4 separate regions of the Homo sapiens genome follow, and regions 2, 3 and 4 are each linked to region 1. The links come from fine-mapping of genetic effects on gene expression. A gene starts in region 1. Each other region holds a variant in brackets. All regions are shown on one strand. Distances are from middle to middle.

What was found.
Region 2: its variant is fine-mapped to the expression of LDB3 in sun-exposed skin (GTEx, PIP above 0.99).
Region 3: its variant is fine-mapped to the expression of LDB3 in lung (TOPMed, PIP above 0.99).
Region 4: its variant is fine-mapped to the expression of LDB3 in esophagus muscle (GTEx, PIP 0.98).

The regions. Positions count from the first base shown.
Region 1 is chr10:86,666,522-86,671,670 of GRCh38, reverse strand. LDB3 (LIM domain binding 3) reads right to left here and starts at 3,160. Exons shown (of 14, transcript NM_007078.3): 1 at 3,101-3,160; 2 at 2,887-3,002. The coding sequence starts at 2,979. LOC105378409 (a long non-coding RNA gene) reads left to right here and starts at 5,122. Exons shown (of 3, transcript XR_001747526.2): 1 at 5,122-5,149. RefSeq lists an enhancer at 2,980-3,029.
Region 2 is chr10:86,639,438-86,644,586 of GRCh38, reverse strand. No RefSeq gene overlaps it. Among named protein-coding and RNA genes, the nearest start is that of OPN4, 13 kb to the left of the region's middle. RefSeq lists an enhancer at 1,134-1,373. The variant G/A (reference allele first, on the strand shown) is at 2,042.
Region 3 is chr10:86,593,954-86,599,102 of GRCh38, reverse strand. No RefSeq gene overlaps it. Among named protein-coding and RNA genes, the nearest start is that of OPN4, 58 kb to the left of the region's middle. RefSeq lists an enhancer at 1,133-1,633. The variant G/A (reference allele first, on the strand shown) is at 2,186.
Region 4 is chr10:86,605,852-86,611,000 of GRCh38, reverse strand. No RefSeq gene overlaps it. Among named protein-coding and RNA genes, the nearest start is that of OPN4, 46 kb to the left of the region's middle. The variant TA/A (reference allele first, on the strand shown) is at 2,558.

The sequences.
Region 1 (5,149 bases):
CAGCCTCTGGCCAGCTGCCAGGGCAGAGGCCTTTGGAGCTGCTCCCTCTCTGGGCTGCTCCCCCTTCTCCACTTCCTGGAGAACTGGCTGGGGTGGGGTGAAAGGGCAGCTCATGTTGCAGGCCCAGCCACACCTGTCCAGGATAAATAAAGGCATTTCCCCGCCACCCTCCTTTCCCAGTCTCCCTCTTGAACTCCCTTCTCTGTGGGTCTGCAAGCAGAGACCCTATGAAGGGATGCCTTGAGGGGCTGCTGCTGCCCCAAAGTTGCTGCCATGAGCCCCCGGGAGCCACCACCCAGCCTGCAGGTGGCCTGTGTCCTTCCAGGAGGAGCTGCAGCACACACCTGCAGCTGAGAGGGGACAGACCCTCCCCAGTGCCTCTCTATTAGTCCCAGTTAGAGGGGTGAGCAAGCCAGCATGGGAGTTAGGGGTGACAGGATACAGGAGATCCACCCATGGACATCCCTGTCCTGTGAGCAGACTCGAGCCTCAGTTTGCCAGGCTCTGAAGCGAGGTAACGATCCCAGCCTCGCCTGCCTGCCCACCCCACAGGGTCACACACTCTTGCCTCTGGTGCCCTATGGCACAGGCTCAGGTCCTGGCTGGGGTGGGAGTGGGGTTCCTCCAGAGAGCTCTGGCCATGCCTCCCCCGTAGGGGGATGTCCCTGGTGCAGAAGGGCCCTGCGAGCCCCGGCAGTAAATCCTACAGCCCTGGTGGGATGGCAGGGCTGTGTCCACAAGGCCTGCCCTGCCAGCGGCACTGAACCAGGACACAAGCCCAGGCTATCAGCAGCCTACCACCAAAATTTCTCAAGAGGCTCCGAGCCCTGGGGAAGGCTCCAGTACCCAGTCCAGCCTGCTCCGCGGCTTAGGTGATTTGGGGTATGCCCCTAAAGGAAGCCGAGAGGCCATATCATGCCCATCCCCCGGTGCCCTGCCCGAGCTTCGGGTTCTATTTTTAGAAGTCCCCACAGTCATTGGATCCAGCACATCCCTGCATACCCCCTCCCCAGAGTAAGGACATTCCTCCTGCTATCTAGCTTAAGGCTTCTGGGCTGCCATTTAAGCCCCTGGCTGGCCGGGGCCAGGTGGCACATAGACCCTGGGTGAGGTCATTGGCTATCCTGAGTGCCACTGAGCCCAGTGGCCAATTTGCACCCATAGGGATAGGGCAGGGAGCACCAGCAGGAGGCCTCGAGATGGTGGAGCTGGGGGAGATGTGGGCTCAGTCCCAGGCAGGGGAGGCCACAGGGCCCATGAGAGAGCACACAGAGGCTCCACCTTATACAGGAAGGAGTCCTGCAAGCATGGGGGTGGGGAGCTGTGGGAAAGGGCAGTGGGAAATCCACTGGGGCTCACATGCTCACAGGTCACCACCTCATGCAAAGTGTGCAAGGCTGTGGGTGCCCAGGACCCTGTGGTCTCCAGGGCAGTAGATCTGGAGGGGTGGAATCTCCAGGTTAGAACAAGCCACATCTGCAACTGAAGGATGGAGGTCAGGGCCTGTTCCCTGCACCAGAGCCAGGCCAGCACCCCTCCTGTAAGCATGTGGCCTCTATGGCTATTATAAGGCTCTCACGGCATCCCTGGGTGGGGCTTCTACTTCTGGGGTCCCCTCAAGTACCCGTGGAACAAAAAAAAGATTACTCCTCCACTGGGGGCATTGGCTCCTGACCCGCTGCCCAGGTTCCCTGGCCCCTCTGCCAAGCCCCTTCAGGCCTTGCCCACTTCAGTGCTTCCCCTCCAACCCCTTCCTCCAGCCCCCAGGCCCAAGGCAAGTCCTTAAGGCCCCAGAGAAGAAACTGTCCCCTTGTTCCCCTGGTGGGCAGTAGCCCAGATACCCCTGCCTACCTACCACCCTCCAGTGACAGACTGGGGGCCTCCCCCTCTGGCCTTGTGCCCGGAACAGCACGGTCAGGGGCTCAGCCACCAGGCAGGGTTGTCCTTGCCCTGTATGCCTCACAGTTCGCCCTGAGCCTTGGGGCCTTCAGCCCTGGGTCTACCAGTGCCTTGCTGGGGAGTCTCTTTGTTTGACAGAAACTGACGGAGTGCCTACTACGGTCTGGGGGCTGTTCCCCCATCAGTCCCTGCTCCTGGAGTGCTTCCTCAGGAGCATGGCTAACTTTCTGCCTCTCTGGTGTTGCTGTCTCCAGCCAGGCGGTAGAGTTACTCAGACAACCCCTGATGTTCTGTGTCATCTGCATCAGGCCATGCTGCTCCCCATCACAGACACTGCAGGATAGGGGGCCATCTCACCAGGCCCCAGCACTTGTGGGGAACAAGACCTGAGACAGACAAAGCAGCCATGGTGAATGGGGAGAAGCGCCCAGCCCCATGAGCCAGGGTCTTGGTGTCTCAAGTTTGGGATGGAGCAGGTGCCCAGTACTCAGTCCAGCCCAGCCCCACACTCTGACAGCTGGGCAGCCAAGGTCAACCGTCTGTCTGTCCATCTATCCAACTGCCCATCACCTGCCCTCTCCATGCTGGGAATACTCCCTTCCCAAAGCAGCTGCCCATATCTAGGGAAATGCTCAAGGCTTGGGGGCACCCTGAGCCCACTCTAACAGTAAAGGGATCAGGAAGGTGCTGTACTCTCTGTCCAGCTACCTGCCTGCCTGCCTGCCTGCCTGCCTGAAAACTCAGCATTTTCTTCTCTGCTAAAAACACCTACCACCTGCTCATGATGTCTCACATGCATAACAGGCCGGCGCGCTCCAGTGAGCAAACAGCTGTGGCTGAGACCAGAGGACCAGGCCAGTCCCAGGGGATGGGGCATGCTCTGCTTTCTGAGAGGCTCAGAAAGGACAGACAGACAGACGGACACACATGCCCTCCTCCAAGCGTGCCTGCCCCATCGGGTGCCAGGCTGTGGCAGGGTGCACTCACCCGGGAGATAGTGAGGGGCATGTTGAAGTCCTTGCCCCCCTGCAGACGGAAGCCCCAGGGCCCGGGCCCAGTCAGGGTCACACTGTAAGACATGCTGGTGCTGTCAGCGGCCGCCTCTGCAGACAAAGGGTAGAGAGGGTTGAGTGAGAGGGCACTCAGGCACTCCGCCTGCCCGGTCCACACCTCTGCCCCTGCCCCTGACCCCCAGCCTTGCCTGTTCTGTCCCTTGCTGCCCAGCCGGGCTGCGTGGAGCTCTTGAGAGGCTCCTAAGAATAGCTGGGAGCGAATGCCATCGACACTGATATCTGCCTTCGGCTGCGCCCATAAATGGACTGTAACCCTACACTGTGCCTGCCAGCCTGCCGCCTCCCAGCCGGTCCACCATGACTCACACGGCTAATATAGCCCCTGGGGAGGGGTGTCCGGCACCCAGCACCCCCCAGGGGGGAGGAAGGGGAACTGGCCTGGTTGGTGAGAATGCTCTGGTCTCCTTGCTCCTGTGTCCTCTGGAGAGCGTAGACACTCGCTCTTCCTGCCCAGTGGTACCCATCCTCTTGCTCAGAAGACCAGGGGCTGAGCTCCCTTGGGTAGGGGCTTTGCTGCCGTGTGGTCCCTGGCCAGGATTCTGGGGTTGTGCTTTATCCAGTATGGGGCCCTGGAGGTGCCTTGGCTTGAGCTGAGCCTCCAGCTGGTCTGTGACTGGCCCAGGGTTGTCCAGCCATAAAAACGATCATCATAACAGCAGCTCTGGGCATAGCCAACCTCAGTATGGGCCCTTCACTCCCTGGGATCCTGAGAAGCTGCCACCTGGGCCCGCAGGAGACAAAGCTCAGGGAGGTTAAATGACTTCTCCAAGGTCACACAAGGAGTGGACCCAGGTCACACTGGAGCCTGGGCTGATTCCTACAGAATGCATGCCAGATAATGGGCTCCCAGTAGCCACAGAAGCCTCCCAAAGCCCTGGTCCTGGGCAGCTGGCCCTCTGCCTGCACCCCTTGGCATAGGGTCTGAAAGCAGGTCTGAGGCAGGCCCATCCCCTCCAGACCCTCTGGGGGCCCAGCCAGTTATTCCTGGCTCTCCTGTCTTTGTGCTCTGGAAAACTTGACGGCAGCATGGAAAGCTCCAGCTGCCAGTGCCACACGCCAGGCCCCGTGCCCTTTGCGCAGGAATGGCAGGGGGCAGGGAGAAGGGAGGAGACGCCATTTGCTCAGCTGCTAGACACAGGGCCAGGAGGGGCAGGGAGGGGGAAGCACGTGTGGCATGTTCAGCCTGTACCCCAGAGACAGTGTGTTCTGGATGGGGGCCTCAGCACCTTGGGACTTCTGCCAGTGCGGTCTTTGGGCCAACCCCTTCCCCAAGAAAGACCTCAGGCCCCTATGTGGTCTGGAGATAGATCAAGGCCCACCCTGGCTCCTTGGTTGGAGAAACTGAGGCTCAGGGGAGGCAACTGGGTTGGCTGCTTGCTGGCCCTCTTGGAGGGGTCTGGCTTGGACCCTGAGGAGTCAGTAGAGGCCTGGGTGTGAGTCATTTCTCAGCTTCTAGCCTCACTCCTGGGGCCTGGCACATGCAAGGTACAAGGTAGGATCACCCATATTACGGGGTTGTTTTGTCACTTGCCCAAAGTCACAAAACTATCAAGTGGAAGAAGTCAGGAAAAGACCTGTGTCCTTTTCCCTGCTTAATCACTTCCTTCACCCTATATCATGCAGCCCAGCCCAGGAGGCCAGCAGTCCATGGCCAGCATCCCTTCCCCATACCATTCCCTATCCCTCTCTGCAAAGCCCCATGTCATTCATCCCTAACTCCAGCCTTATGCCCTTTCCTAGGGGTGTTTGTCCATCCTGCCAGGCTGGGGAGGACTCAGCAGCAGGGCATAACCAGTGTGGGAGAAGGAAGGCACCCACCCTCAGGGCCAGGGAGCTGGGGGAGGCTGTACCTGGAGCTGCACGCTGTCTCTCTGGCCTCTGGCTCCTGCCTGATGAAGCTCGCCTCTGGGGAAAGGGAGGGGTGGCAGGAGAGTGCTCTTAAAGGCGAAGGCCGGCCTCCCTCCATCCGCCTCCCTCGGGAGATGTGAAGCCAGTCAGAGAGCAGCTGGTACCCATGGTCTGGGCGGAGTTCAATGGCTCACTGGGGAGTGAGTGGGGATGGAGGCCAGCCTGGCCTTTGTCCCTTCTCTGCTGTACTCCTTGCAGTTTGAGGTGGGCCTCAGAGTGAGAGTCCCAAGAGTGGGGACAGAGGAAGGAGAGGAAGTGAAGTTGCTGGA
Region 2 (5,149 bases), 27 kb after region 1:
AGTCACCACATGATGAGATTGATGCATGAGAACTCCTGTCAGGACAAGGGAGTTTCTGGGTTTGTTGTGGTTTTAATTTGTGATCTACTTGATGCAAGCACATTCTTTAAAAATGAAATAGCACTGAAAGGCAGTTTCTGGTCCCATCCCTCCTGCTTTCTTGTGTGAAAATAAATATAATTTAAAAGCTGTTGGAACCCAAAAAAACCCACTTCAAACCTTAAGAGAAATGTGAATGTGATCTTAGTCACATATGGTTCCAACTTCTGTTTCTCAGATTATAGATTAACTTGTTTTCTTATTTTTTTGTTCTGTACAATGACTAGAGAGAATTAAATTATATCAGGGACAAAAGCCTCCTGCCTTCTTAATTAATGACTCTTGTTATAGATTAACTTCCCCTTTGTTGTCCTACTTTGCCTAAACCAGATGACAGAAAACCCATGACTGTTACACCCATTATATTCAAAATGCTAAATGTACCCTTTCCAAAAAGGATGCATTGCCTATCATCAATCAAATTGCTGGAAGTATGTGCCAACTTCATATGAAAAATGTTGTAATCCTGCTAAAAACATCTCTGTCTCTGCATCTATAAATGAAACCCTAATTTCTCTACTTCAGAACACTGCCTCCATCTCTTCGCAGTTGATGCTCCTGAGTGGGCCATCCTCAAACTTTGTATTTGAATAAACTCTCTTTAAATTAGACTCTGATCCTTTTGATTATTTTAAGTTGACATTTTGGCAACTGCAGATAGGACCTGAAACAAGCCTCGTGCGATCCTCGTTGCTTTGCTGGCATTCGGAGATTTAGTACCAGCATGAGTGGCTTTTACTCGTCTGACCTCATCAGAGCTGGCGGGGGTCTCTGGTAAGACTTCTCTCAGGTTTCATATCTTCCTAGTTCTGGCTGAGATTCAGACTTTATTCAAGCAACCCAATTCCACACTCAACAGAGCTAGAACTGAAGCTCAACTTTTGGCTTTGAGGTAGTCACTTTATTGTTATTTCTCTAGAGATTCTGTTATTTGCAAGTTTGTAGTTTCACTTTCTTTTGAGGTTAAGATTTTGTCTGTTTTGCTTGCTAAAGTTTGCAACTTTTCTCCCATTCAAAATTTGGGGCTGGGTGCAGTGGCTCACACCTGTAATCCCAGCACTTTGGGAGGCTGAGGCGGTTGGATCACTTGAGGCCAGGAGTTGAAGACCAGCTTGGCCAACATGGTGAAACCCAATCTCTACTAAAAATACAAAGCATTAGCTGAACGTGATGGTGCATGTCTGTGGTCCCTGCTACTTGGGAGGCTGAGGTACGAGAATTGCATGAACCCAGTAGGTGGAGATTGCAGGGAGCTGACACACTGTACTCCACTGTCCAGCCTGGGTGACAGAGTGAGATTCTGTCTCAAAAAAAATTGGTTAAATAGAAAGCAGTTTCTTTTTAAAAAGAGAAAGTGAATGCTTGTGGCTTAAGCTAAATGTGCAGTTTTAAACTGACCAGGTTTTGGAGCTGGGTTAAAATTGCCATTTAGATTTTCTTTCTGAGTGACCAAAAATTCATTAAAGGCTTTGTCTGAGGATGTGATTTACTTGACCTGAGAAAGTCCTAAATAACGGCCACTGTTCCTCCCAGCTGAAAGGCACCTTAGGTAACTGAGGCCACACAGGACTGTCAGAGGTCATAGCTTCTGCTGTGTAAGGGTCCTACAGGGAAACCCCAAGGAAGAACATACAGGGAAATCTGATTAACCTGTTGGGCATACATGAAGGGTTGGTATCCCAGGGCCCTAAGCCTCCAGAAATGTCTGGGTTTCACTGAAACACATAAGAGAGTAGAAGTGACTCATGGGTGACACCTCGAGGAGTAATCCCTGTTAAGCAGAATACCAGATCCAAAACATCTTTCCCAGCTGGGCACGGTGGCTCACGCCTGTAATGCCAGCATTTTGGGATGCCGAGGGGGAAGGAGCCCAACATGAGGAGTTTGATACTAGCCTGGCCATCGTGGTGAAACCCTGCCTCTACTAAAAATACAAAAATTA[G/A]CAAGGTATAGTGGTGGGCACCTGTAATCCCAGCTACTTGGGAGGCTGAGGCAGGAGAATCATTTCAACCTGGAAGGCGGAGGTTGCAGTGAGCTGAGATAGCGCAACTGTACTCCAGCCTGGGTGACAGAGAGAGACTTCATCTCAAAATAAACATATAAATAAAATTTAAAAATTAAAAAATAAGACATCTTTCTCTTTGAGTCTTTGGTCACTTAAAAAGAAAATCCAAATTATGGTCCATCTTCCATCTAAAACTGAGTCCTCTTTAAGAAAGAATCCATCTTTAGAAACTCCAGCTGGATTTATGTACAATACTTATGGCACCACCTCCTGTCAATATTTGGAAAAATGGTCTTACTTGACCCAAGAAAATCCTAACATTTGCAATGGACAAAATGTAGTACCTTTGAAATGCCTAAACTAATTTAATTGTGTGCTCAATGAGAAAAAGTCAGCTATAAGATAAAACAAAATAATTGGGAGAGTTATTTTCAATGAGGCTTGGAAGCTTCTAAAGAGGTTATAATAAAGTTATTTCTTTACAAGAGAACAAAAAGTTGTCTTAAAAAATTCTGAATTAAAGACTGCTGAAATTTATCCTCCTCCCTCAGCTCCTCTGTCTCTTTATTCTTTATTATCCTTTATTATCTTCTCCTTCTCTTTATCCTTTAGTACCTTGCCCAGATCTACCTCCTCCTCCTTCTGCTTCTACTGTTCCAGCTCCATTTCTCAAACAGCCAGTGTCTGGTAGGGGAGAACCTACCCTAGTTTCTCAATCATGGTCAAAGGTAAAACTTAAAGACATAGTTCAGGAATTTCCTGATTCTCACCAGGACCAGGACATTGGTTTTCTCAGGAAATTTAAATTAAATATTTGTGCTTATGACCCTGGCTCTACTTTGGGAAAAATAATTATTTTAAATGGAGTATGAACACAAGCTTTTGTTGACACTGGAGCCACATTATCTGTAATAAATCTCACCTTATTACAAGATTCATTCCTTGGAGTAAACAAAAAATTCAAATGGTGGGTGTCACAAATACTCCTGTATTGGTTTATAAATCTCAGCCTGTAGCTTTTCAGCTACGTCACTTACAAGGGACTTATGTTTTCCTTTTGGTTGAATCAGCTCCCATCCATCTTATAGAAAAAGACTTAAAATTATATAATACACTTCTTTCTCCCAAAAAGGGAAAATGTATTTAGAATTAGATGATAAAACTGAGTTACTGGACATAAAAAGTTTTTCAAAATCTAATTTAATTGCAATCTATATTGCCATAGTAGACACTGAATTATTGAGTAATGAAAATTACAAAACCTGCTAAAGGTAGTACCTGATCAATTGTGGTTAAAATCTTCTGCTGATATTGGAATAATCATCTTGGCTTCCCCAATCAAAGTTCAAATAGATCCATCAAAACACCTTCCAAACCTTAAGCAATACCCTCTATTTATTTATTTTTAAAGTATTTTAAATTCATCATATATGGATTGAGTGACTTTGTTAAGTTTAACAGATGTTTATGTAACTTAACTGTGAACTGTTCTTTTTTTGAGCCAGGGTGTCACTCTGTCACCCAGGCTAGAGTGCAGTGATGTGATCTGTGCTCACTGGAACCTCTGCCTCCTGGGCTCAAGCAATCCTGCCACTTCAGCTTCTTCAGTAGCTGGGACCCCAGGTGCACAACACCATGCCTAGTTAAATTTTTGTATTTTTTGTAGAGATGGGGTTTCGCCATGTTGCCCAGGCTGGTCTCAAACTCCTGAGCTCATGCAATCCACCTGCCTTGGCCTCCCAAAGTATTAGGATCACAGGCATGAGCCATCACATCTGGCCAGTACCCTTTAAAAGTAGAAGCTATAATAGGAATAAAACCTGTAGTTCCAGGCTATATAAAAAGAGGTACATGTAATACTCCAATCCTTCCTGTAAGGAAACTAAATGGTAGAGGATAGAAGTTTGTATAGGATCTGAGAACAATTAACAACATAGTCATTCCTCATTATCCAGGAGTGCTAAACCTCCATACATGTTGATGCCATTCTTACCAAAGGCACGTTCTTTACTGTAATAGATTTATGTAGTGTGTTCTTTAGTACTTCTGTGGATAAAGACAGTCAATTTGTTTTCATTTTCACTTGAGAAAACAGACAATACACATGGACATCCTGCTCCAGGGATACATTGAGATCCCAACACACTTTTCACAATATGTAGATGATTTACTCCTCTGCTCAGAGGCTAGGCAAAGCCTCTATAGATGATGGGCTGCACTTTTTACAACAATGAGCTTAAAGGGACACAGACCTCAAAAGAAAGATTTCAGTTTAGAGAAAAACAAATAAGATACTTAGGTCATTTAATATCAAAGGAAGGTCTTTTCATCCATCCAGGCAGTATAAAAAAATATTGGCTTTCCCTACCCCCATAACTTAAAAAACAACCAAAGGGATTTCTGGGTCAGAAGGATACTGTAGGAATTGAGTTCCAAACTTCTCCCTAAAAATTCAACCTTTATATACTCTTTAAAACAAGACAAGTCCGGCACCCTGGAGTGGACTGAGGAAAAATCAGTTAACATTGGAAGAGATCAAAAAGAGCATTATAACGATCAGGTGTGGTGACTCATGCCTGTAATCCCAACACTTTGGGAAACTGAGATGAGTGGATCACCTGAGGCCAAGAGTTCTCAACCTAGAAAACATGGTGAAACCTTGTCTTTCCAAAACATACAAAAATTAGCCAGGGGTGGTGGCACACATCTGTAGTCCCACCTACTTGGGAGGCTGAGGTGGGAGGATTGCTTGAGCCCAGGAGGTTGAGGCTGCAGTGAGCTGTGATTGCACCACTGCATTCTAGCCTGAGCAACAGAGCAAGACCCTGTCTCAAGAAAAAAAAAATCACAAAAAACAGCCTTATAGATACCCCAGCTCTAGGAAATTGAATTATAATATATCATTTTCACTATTTGTTCATGAAAATCAAAAAAACACTTTAGGTCATCTGACACAAAAACATGGAGACCAAAACAGACCCATAGGATACTACAGTCAGCAACTGGACCCTGTGGCTAAAGGACTGCCACCTTGCATAAGGGCAA
Region 3 (5,149 bases), 73 kb after region 1:
GACCTCTGGTCGTCCTCACTGCTACGCTCCCACCAGTGCCATGACAGTTACAGATGCCATGGCAACGTCAGGAAGTTACCCTATATGGTCTAAAAACAAAAGGCATAAATAATCCACCCCTTGTTTAGCATATCGTCAAGAAATAACCATAAAATGAGCAACCAGCAGCCCTTGGGGTTGCTCTGCCTATGAAGTTGCCATTCTTTTATTCCTTTACTTTCCTAATGAACTTGCTTTCACTGTATTCTATGGACCCGCCCTGAATTCTTTCTTGCACAAGATCCAAGAACCCTCTCTTGGGGTGTAGATCGAGACCCCTTCCCTGTAACACTTGCAGATGGGCTTGGCCAGCGGGAAGGACCACAGGAGATGGGTGGAAGGGAATAAGTGAGGGCAGGTGAGTATTTCCAGCTTTCCTCCTGCTGGGTTGTGCCCTCTGCCATAAGTTGGTTGTGTCCCTTCACCAAATGCCATACCCCTTGTCTAGTGTCCCTCTCCATATACTACACTCTCCTCTTCCATAATCTCTTCCATCTCCTGCCCCTCCTGGTCAAGCTGTTCCCAACCTTGAGGCACTGCAGTAGCCCTTGCTGGAGTCCTTAGGCCCTGCGCACAGGTTTCTAAACAGTCTCTTATCAAAGCTTCCTCCAATTACTCAGTTTGAGTGCATCATCTTTTTCCTGCCAGGACCCTGACTAAAGCAAAGCCTAAAAGTTTGTGGATTTACATCACCCAGAAATCTCATCATTGGGGATGTCTTGATGATGCCAGCATTTCTGAATTTCTGTAAGTGAGACAGACAACAGCTGGTGATGTGGTCACACTGCAGTGAGAACATTTGGGCAGGGCAATTAATAGGCCCCAAGACATCTTTCTTTTTGGAAAAATACCCACCCACCCCCTACCACCTCCTCATACTGCTATAGCATTGCTGTAGCAACAAAATGGTAATTCAAAGAGGTATATTTTTATTTTAAAAGGCTCTCTGTCTGGGAAATTTCTACTCTACGAGCCGATGCTTGTGCTGTGAGGCTGAATCTTCCTTAAGAACAAGACAAAACGGCCGGGCACAGTGGCTCACGCCTATAATCCCAGCACTTTGGGAGGCCGAGGCAGGAATCATCTGAGGTCAGGAGTTCAGGAACAGCCTGGCCAACATGGTGAAACCCTGTCTCTACAAAAATACAAAAAATATTAGCTGGGCATGATGGTGCCTGTCTGTAATCCCAGCTACTTAGGAGGCTGAGGCAGGAGAGTCTCTTGAGCCCGGGAGGTGGAGGTTGCTGTGAGCAGAGATCTTGCCATCATTGCACTCCAGCTTGGGCGACAGAGCGAGACTCCATCTCAAAACAAACAAACAAACAAACAAACAAACAAACAAAAGACAAAACAAAAGAGGAACCAACAGTGCCTTGGAGGGAGTCCAATTAAGGAGCATGACCGAAAGGAGGGAGAACAGCCACAGAGAGCTAAGCCAGGCGGGAGCGCATCTGTTCAGGTCCGGGTGCACACAGCAGGTAACAGGGTATCGGTGAAGGTGCCAGGGGTGTCAGTTCCTAGTCACCTCCTCTTGCAGGTGCCGAGGCAGAGTCTGCGCGGTGGGAGAAGGCAGAGCCGGGCTGGAGTGCTTACTTTCCTTCTGTCCTCAGCAGCTGCACGTGGAAGGCGAGCAGGGCTCAAGGTGGATTGGGTGCATGGTGGTGTCCCAGCCGGGTCAGGAGGAACACTCAGCCAGGCTTGCTCCCCCAAATTCACATGGGCTATGCCACGGGAGGCCTCAGACCGCACCTTCGTCTTCCAGCCTCAAGGCGAGGGCCTTGCAGGTGTTGGCAGAGAAGGTGAACATCTCAAAAAAAAAAAAAAAAAATGCAAATATGAGCTGTCAGCTACAAGGGGTTGGGGGTTGTGTACCATCCTGATAAAGAGAGTCTAGATACCAAGACACCAAAAGCTTCACTATAATACCAGAGGTAGTAAATGAAAGTAGCATTTTAAGTCTGTGGAAAGGATGGATATTCCATAAATATTATTGAGACCATTGACTATCCTTTTGAAAAAAGAAAGTTTGGTCTACACCTCACACCTTGAATGAAAACAGGTTCCAAAATGGGTCCAAGATTTACCCACTGTAACAAACAAAAAAAATGACAAATGAACTGTATTACTGTATTAGTTATCTATCTCC[G/A]CATAACAAATTAACCCCAGATTTAGCAGCTTTAAACAACAAACATTTATTATCTATGGTTATGGGGGTCAGGAATCCAGGAGCAGCATAACTGGGTTCTGCCTCAGTATCTCTCATCAGGTTGCAGACAAGATATTGGCTCAGGCTGCAGTTTTGTTGTTGTTGTTGTTGTTGTTTTAAGAGACGGGGTCTCACTCTGTTGCCCAGGCTGGAGTGCAGTGGCTATTAACAAGCACAATCATAATGTCATAACTACAGCCTCAAACTCCTGGGCTCAAGTTATCCTCCGGCCTCAGCCTCCTGAGTAACTGGGACTACAGGCATGTGCCACCAACGGGCTGCAGTCATTTGAAGGCTCAACTGGAGGAGGCTCCCATTTCAAGGTCACTCATGTTGTTGTTGGCCAACCTTAATTCCCCGTTGGCTGTTGGACTGAGACCTCATTTCTCACCACTGGTTCATGCCAAGTCCAACCCAGATGTGCCCAGTTAAGCAGCTCTCCTGCAAGCAATGAGTCAGGAATTCAAGCTCTCTATCCAGTAACTCCACTGTCCCCAGGAATCTTGGACTCTTCTCCTGCATCCAGCCAGCTGGTAGGCAAGGGGAGAACATGGATGGTTGCATGAAAAGTTTGAAGAGCCACCCCTGAAAAAGGCACACATCACTTCTCCCCGCATTCCATTGGCCAGAATTCGACATGATGCTAGGGGGCTGGGAAACATAGCTCTCCTGTGTGCCCAGGAGAAAAATAAATCGGTTTGGTGAGCACATGGTATTGTGTCTGCCATGGGCCTGTAGGTAAGGATATCTGCTCTTCACCAGCCAGGGCTTGGCTGTCCAATGGAAGAACTCCTTCTTTTCAGCTCTTCAAATCACAAGTCAAGTGACTCAATGACTGAGTCAATAGGGAGAATTAGTGCACCCCAGCACCTGAACTTTATGAGGTCTCCAACTTGGTTTGGTTTCACTGGCCCCCTCATTCCTTCCTTTCCCAGGGAGGCCCTGACTTGTATCAACAACTGCTGAATTACATTACATGTACAGTGTCAGTGTGTCAATGTTACTAGAAACTTCTAAAATGCTACCCAAGGAGCTTTACTGAATATCCTTCTATTTATTTCCCCAGGTGTACCCTTGCATTTCTCCACCCTGCCCTGTCCCTTGGGAGGCAGATCCAAACACATTGTGTGTCAGTGCCCTGACCCAGGTGCGTTCTGTCAGCAGGAGGCACCAGCGGGTATCTGGAAAGTGGAGTGGGAGTGGGGCTGTCAGGTGCTTATTTCCCTGGCTCCTTCTTGTCAGGTCACCATGGATTGTGGTGTCTTTAACTTTTTTCAAAATGTTGAGATACAATTTAAGCTGGGCAAATTTAGCACTGTCTGTAGTCCCGGCTACTCGGGAAGCTAAGGCAGGAGAGTCGCTTGAGGCCAGGAGTTCAGGACCACCCTGGGTAACATAGCAAGACTGTGTCTCAAAAAACAAAACAAAACAAAACCAAAACAGGCAATGACAAAAAATGAGACAAAATTCACAAGTTGGCTGGGTGCAGTGGCTCATGCCAGTAATCCCAGTACTTTGGGAGGCTGAGGTGGGCAGATCACTTGAGGTCAGGAGGTCAGTGGCCTACACAGTGAAATCCCATCTCTACTAAAAATACAAAAATTAGCTGGGCCTGGTGGCACGTGCTTGTAATCCTAGCTACTTGGGAGGCTAAGGCAGGAGGATAGCTTGAACCCGGGAGGCAGAGGCTGCAGAGAGCCAAGATTGCGCCATTGCAATCCAGCCTGGGCAACAGAGTGAGACTCAATCACAAAAAAAAAAAAAATTCGCAAGTCATAAAATTTACCATTTTAACCATTTTAAAGTGTACAATTTAGAGATTTTTAGTATATTCACAATCTTGTACATTACAGGGGTGTCCAATCTTTTAGCTTCCCTGGGCCACATGGGAAGAATAATTGTCTTGGGCCACACATAAAATACACTAACACTAACGATAGTTGATGAGCTAAAAAGAATCACAAAAAATCTCCTAATGTTTTAAGAAAGTTTACACATTTGTGCCAGACCGCATTCAAAGATGTCCTGGGCCACATGTGGCCTGCGGGCCTCTGGTTGGACAAACTTGTCATAGAACCATCACTGCTATCTAATTCCAGGACGTTTATGTCATCCTCCAATAAACTTTGTATATTTCAACCTCCCTCTGCCCCTTTTCCCTGGCAACCACAACCTCCACGGACTGTTGCATCATGTCCTCTCCTAATGCCATGACTCTGCTGAGTTGTCCTGCCTAGGAAGCTTGCTTTTCCTTTCCCTTGCCTTCCTAGGAAGCTTGCTTTTCCCTTCCCTTCCCTTCCCTTCCCTTCCCTTCCCTTCCCTTCCCTTCCCTTCCCTTCCTTCCCTTCCCTTCCCTTCCCTTCCCTTCCCTTCCCTTCCCTTCCCTTCCCTTCCCTCCCCTCCCCTCCCCTCCCCTCCCCTCCCCTCCCCTCTCCTCCCCTCCCCTCCCCCTCCCTCCCCCTCCCTCCCCCTCCCTCTCCTTCCTTCCCTCCCTCTTTCGTTTTCTTTCTTCTTTCTTTTCCTTTTTCTTTTCTTCTTTCCTTCTTCTCCTTCCTCCCTTCCTTCCTTCTCCCCCTCCCTCTTTTCTTTTCTTTCTTCCTCCTTTTCTTTCTTCTTTCTTTTTCTCTTTCTTTCTTTCCTTTCTTTTTCTCTTTCTTTCTTTCCTTTCTTTTTCTTTATTTCTTTCTTTTTCTTCTTTCTTTCTTTCTTTTCCTTTCTCTCTTTCCCCTCCATCCCTTTCCTTCTTTCATCCTTTTCCTTCATTCCTTCCTTTTCTTTCTTTCTTCCCTTTCTTTCTTTCCTCTCTTTTCTTTTCTTCTTTTTTTGAGACAGAATCTCACTCTGTCACCCAGGCTGGAGTGCAGTGGCATGATCTTGGCTCACTGCAACCTCTGCCTACCAGGT
Region 4 (5,149 bases), 61 kb after region 1:
CAAAAAAAAAAAAAAAATAGCTGGGCGTGGTGGCACATGCCTGTAGTCCCAGCTACTTGGAAGGCTGAGGTGGGAGGATTTCTTGAGCCCAGGAGGTCGAGGCTGCAGTGAGTTATGATCGCACCACTCCACTTCAGCCTGGGCAGCAGAGTAAGACTTTCTCAAAAGAAAAGTTAGAAAAAAAAAGGAAGGAAAGGAGAACATGTGTCAATCTGGAAAGTCAGTTAAGTGGAGCTTGGTTAAGAGAGCTGCTATTGTATTTTTGAGGAAACAATGTATTAGTCAGCTTTGCTGTGATAACAAACAGCACCCCCCACCACCTAATCTCATGGCTTACTATAATATACATTTATTTCTCATTCACATTGCATGTTGGTGTCTGCAAATCAGTGGTGGTGGCTCTGCTTCATGTATCATCTCATTCCAGGGCTAGCCTGAAGGAGCAGCCTCTTTTTAGGACATGTCATTCTTGTGGCAAAGGGAAACAAACAGGATAGAGCTGAAACATCTAATAGCTCTTAAAGGTTTGGCTCATCTGTGGTGGATATTACTCCTGTTCACATCCCATTGGCCAAAGCAGGTCAAAGAACTATACTCTGACTTTGGAAAGCCACTGCAGATCACATGTATAATCCTCTTACAGGAAAGGAAGCAGATGGTTGGAATCAATAATCCAATCACCTGCATATTCCAAGATGTTAACTATTGCTGCAGTAGAGTATATGAATATTGCTGTTATTTTTCCATTCTCATATTTCTCATTTTTACAGTATTTATGACATTTTTATAACTCAACATCTATCCTATTAGGGTAAATTATAATGTCTGGAAGAGCTCACCTTGCCCATTATCTGGCCTTTGTTGGAGGAATTTGCTGACTATGAAAATCATACCATTCACCTTGTACCAATCAATCTGTCCACTTGACTTCCTTTTGAACAGTCTAGATTGTTTCAATTACTAATTACTACATTGTGACTGAAAATTGAGCACTTATAAGCATTAGTGAAAATATATGTATGAAAGAGGCTGACATATATTAGATATTCAAAAAGACTTCTTTAATCTAAATTATGGGCTATTTACATTGATAAATTTTCCAACACAACATAATAAAAACATCTGGTTTCACTTGTAGCATTTTATTTTGTAGTTCACTTTCCATTACAAAAGTGATAAATGTTCATTTTAGAAAATTATAAGTATATAATTTTCAAAATTACAAAAATATTAAAAAGCAAAAGGCAGTAGATAAAAGCACTAGTTATCTCACAACCCTGAGATAACCACTTTTAGCATTTTAGTCAATATATTTTCAGTGATATTTCCAGCATATGTAACTATATTAAAAGGGTTCATATTATGATTGACTAGTTTCAATTCTCATTATGGTATGACTTCTCTATGCCATTAGATATTATCCTATAGTATTAATGGCTGTGCAATATCTTATCCTATGAGAGAAGCCTATTTTATTTTAACTAGTCTTCTGTTAATTACCAGTTTTGTTAAAAATTCCTTTATAAATGAATAATTTCAAACATCTATAATTAATTATTTCCATAGGCAGCTTTCTGGGATCAGAAATTCTGGAGCAAATTATTATGTACAGTTTTAAGGGCCACAGTATTGAATTACAAGAAAAAAACTCAAAATCAGTCTACTTTGTATTATTATATACGATTGCAGATCATCTGTGGTATTTGTCCTCCTGCATTCATCAGTCCCCTAAAGAGATACCAAGGTATTCTTCAATGTTAGAGCAAGTAGAGAACTTTCACATACAGAAATAGTTAACTAGATAATTTGGAACTACCCTCCCACCAAACACAACTGAAATAATCCATATGGAATATAAAAAGCTTCTGGCCAGGTGTGGAGGCTCATGCCTATAACCCCAGCACGTTGGGAGGCTGAGGCAGGTGGATCACTTGAGGCCAGGAGTTCTAGACCAGCTTGACCAACATGGCAAAACCCTGTCTCTACTAAAAATACAAAAAATAGCCAGGCATGGTGGCATATGCCTGTAGCCTCAGCTACTCGGTAGGCTGAGGCATGAGAATTGCTTGAACCCAGGAGGTGGAAACTGCAGTGAGCCGAGATTGTGCCACTGCACTCCAGCCCAGGCAACAGAGTAAGACTCTGTCTCAAAACAAACCAGAAACAAACAAAAAGCTTCTTTCTAAAACAAAGAAAAGCTAACAAGTTGCAAGAAATTGTCAAGGGTCAATATCCCTTGGTAGAAATCCAGAGAGAAGAGCTCAGCATTTGGGCCACTTTTGTCAATCAGAAAAGGTAGTTAAAACACTGAGGAGGCTCGGCCTTTCCAAGGGAAGGGTAACTCTGGAAAACCACCCCATACTTTAGAAGTGGAATTTTGATTGACTAAACCCTGAAAGTAAAAGTAAACAAAAAGTAAACTAGCCTTCCCCTTTACTGTAGCTCAGTTTCAAGAAATCTGGGTGATTCAGAAAAATCTCAAGCACTAAAATGGATTACAATGGTCCTGGATTGCTAATGTCCCCACACATTTGCAAAAGTAAATGAAAATCATTTC[TA/A]AAGGAAGATGATATCATCCTAGTACTAAAATTGCTCCAATAAATTTTTCAAGTACAGTTTCTAACACACAATCAAAGATAACCAGGCATAACAAGAAATAAAATAAGAACAAAAGTAAGCAGGAACAATAGAAAACAGAAAGAGGCTCACAGATACTCCAGATAGTGGAATTATTAGACAGAGATGAGGGGGAAAAAACTATCTTACTATCATCATAGGGTTAAAAACTGAACTCAAAAATTTCAGCAAAATATTGGAAACTATAAAAACAGACATTGAAGATTCAGGAACTAAAAAACATAATAACACAAATTAAAAACTCAATGGATGAGTCTAAAAACAGAGTAAATAAATAAGACAAGTTAGAAGAATTCATCCAGAATGGAGCACAGAGAGATAAATGGATGACAAATGGAAGAGAAGATCAGAGACATAGAGGGCACAGTAAGAAAGACCAATATACATTTAATTGGAATTCCAGAAGAAAGAAGAAATAGGGCAAAAGCAATACTTGAATAATGAATGAGACTTCCAGAACTGATGATTCAAGGACATGATGCAGAAATGGTGATGAAAGATATCAGTCCACAGATTCAAGAAGCCCCCAAAATCACACACAGTACTTAATTTATTTATTTACTTAGAGGCAGAGTCTCACTCTGTCACCCAAGCTGGAGTGCAGTGGTGTGATCATAGCTCACTACAGCCTTGAACCCCCAGGCTCAAGTGATTCTGTCACCTCAGCTTCCTGAGTAGTTGGGGATACAGACATGAGCCACCATGCTCTGCTAATTTTCTTTCTTTTTTTTTTTTTTTTGTAGAGACAGGGTCTCGCTAAGTTGCCTAGGCTGGTCTTGAACTCCTGGCCTCAAGCAATCCTTCCATTCAGTCTCCCAAAGTGTTGGGATTGCAGGGGTGAGCCACTACATCCAGCCATACACAGCATTAACATAAATCACACCCAGATGCTTCATTGTAAAACTGCAGAAAACCAAAAATAAAGAGAAAATTTTAAAAACAAGCAGAACAGAAAAAAGTAGATTATCTTCAGAGGAACAGACAGACTGACAACTGATTTCTTATTAGCAACTACAAAATCCAGAAGACAGTGAAATTATGTTTAATGTGATAAAAGAAAATAATTAACAACTTAGAATTTTATATTTAGTAAAATATCCTTCAAAAATGAAATTTTTTGGCTGGGCACACTGGCTCACACCTGTAATCCCAGAACTTTGAGAGGCTGAGGTGGGCAGATCACTTTAGGTCAGGAGTGTGAGACCAGCCTGGTCAACATGGTGAAACCCCATCTCTACTAAAAATACAAAAATTATCTGGGTGTGGTGGTGGGCACCTCTAATCCCAGCTACTCAGGAGGCTGAGGCAGGAGAATTGCTTGAACCCAAGAGGCAGAGGTTGCAGTGAGCCAAGATTGTGCCACTGCACTCCAGCCTGGGTAACAGAGGGTGATTGTCTCAAAAAAAATATTATTTTTATTTTTGAGATAGGGTTTCACTCTCCCACCCAAACTCATGCCACTCATTGCAGTGGCATGATCACGGCTCACCACAGTCTTAACTTCCTGGGCTCAGGTGATCCTCCTACCTCAGCCTCCTGAGTAGCTGGAACTACAGTCACCTGCCATCATGCCCGGCTAATTTTTGTATTTTTTGTAGAAACAGGGTTTCACCATGTTTCCCAGGCTGTTCGCAAACTCCTGGGCTCAAGCGATCCACCTGCCTCAGCCTCCCAAAATGCTAGGATTACAGGCATGAACCACCATGCCCAGCCAAGAATGAAGTTTAAATAAACACATTTTTAGGGAAACAAAAACAAAATAATTTGCTTTCAGAAGACCACACTGAAGGAAAAACTAAACAGGTCTCATCTCTTCAGATAGAGGGAAATGATTCTAGAAGAAAGATTGGAGATTCAGGAAGAAAAGAAAACCAATGAAATGGTAGTTATTTGGATAAGTCTAATGAATATTGGCTGTGTAAGACAACAATTATAATATCTTGTAGGGTTTTGCCGGGCGCGGTGGCTCATGCCTGTAATCCCAGCACTTTGGGAGGCTGAGGCGGGTGGATCACAAGGTCAGGAGATCGAGATCATCTTGGCTAACACGGTGAAACCCCGTCTCTACTAAAAATACAAAAAATTAGCCAGGCGTGGTGGCGAGTACCTGTAGTCCCAGCTACTCGGGAGGCTGAGGCAGGAGAATGGTGTGAACCCGGGAGGCGGAGCTTGCAGTGAGCCGAGATCAAGCCACTGCACTCCATTCAGCCTGGGCGACAGAGTGAGACTGCGTCTCAAAAAAAAAAAAAAAAAAATCTTGTAGGGTTTTAAAGAAATGTAGAATTAAAATCTATCACATAGCACAAAAATTGTATATGTGGTAAATGGGGTTAAAATAGTCTAAGGTCCTTGCATTCCTGGGAAGAGGTAAAATTCTAATTAATATTAGTATTTAATAAGTCAGAGATACATGCCATAATATCTAAGATAAACATGAATGTCTTAATTTAAAATTAATTAACTCATGCAAAAAGAACACAAGAAAATACTTTTTAAAAGGAGTGCTAAGAAG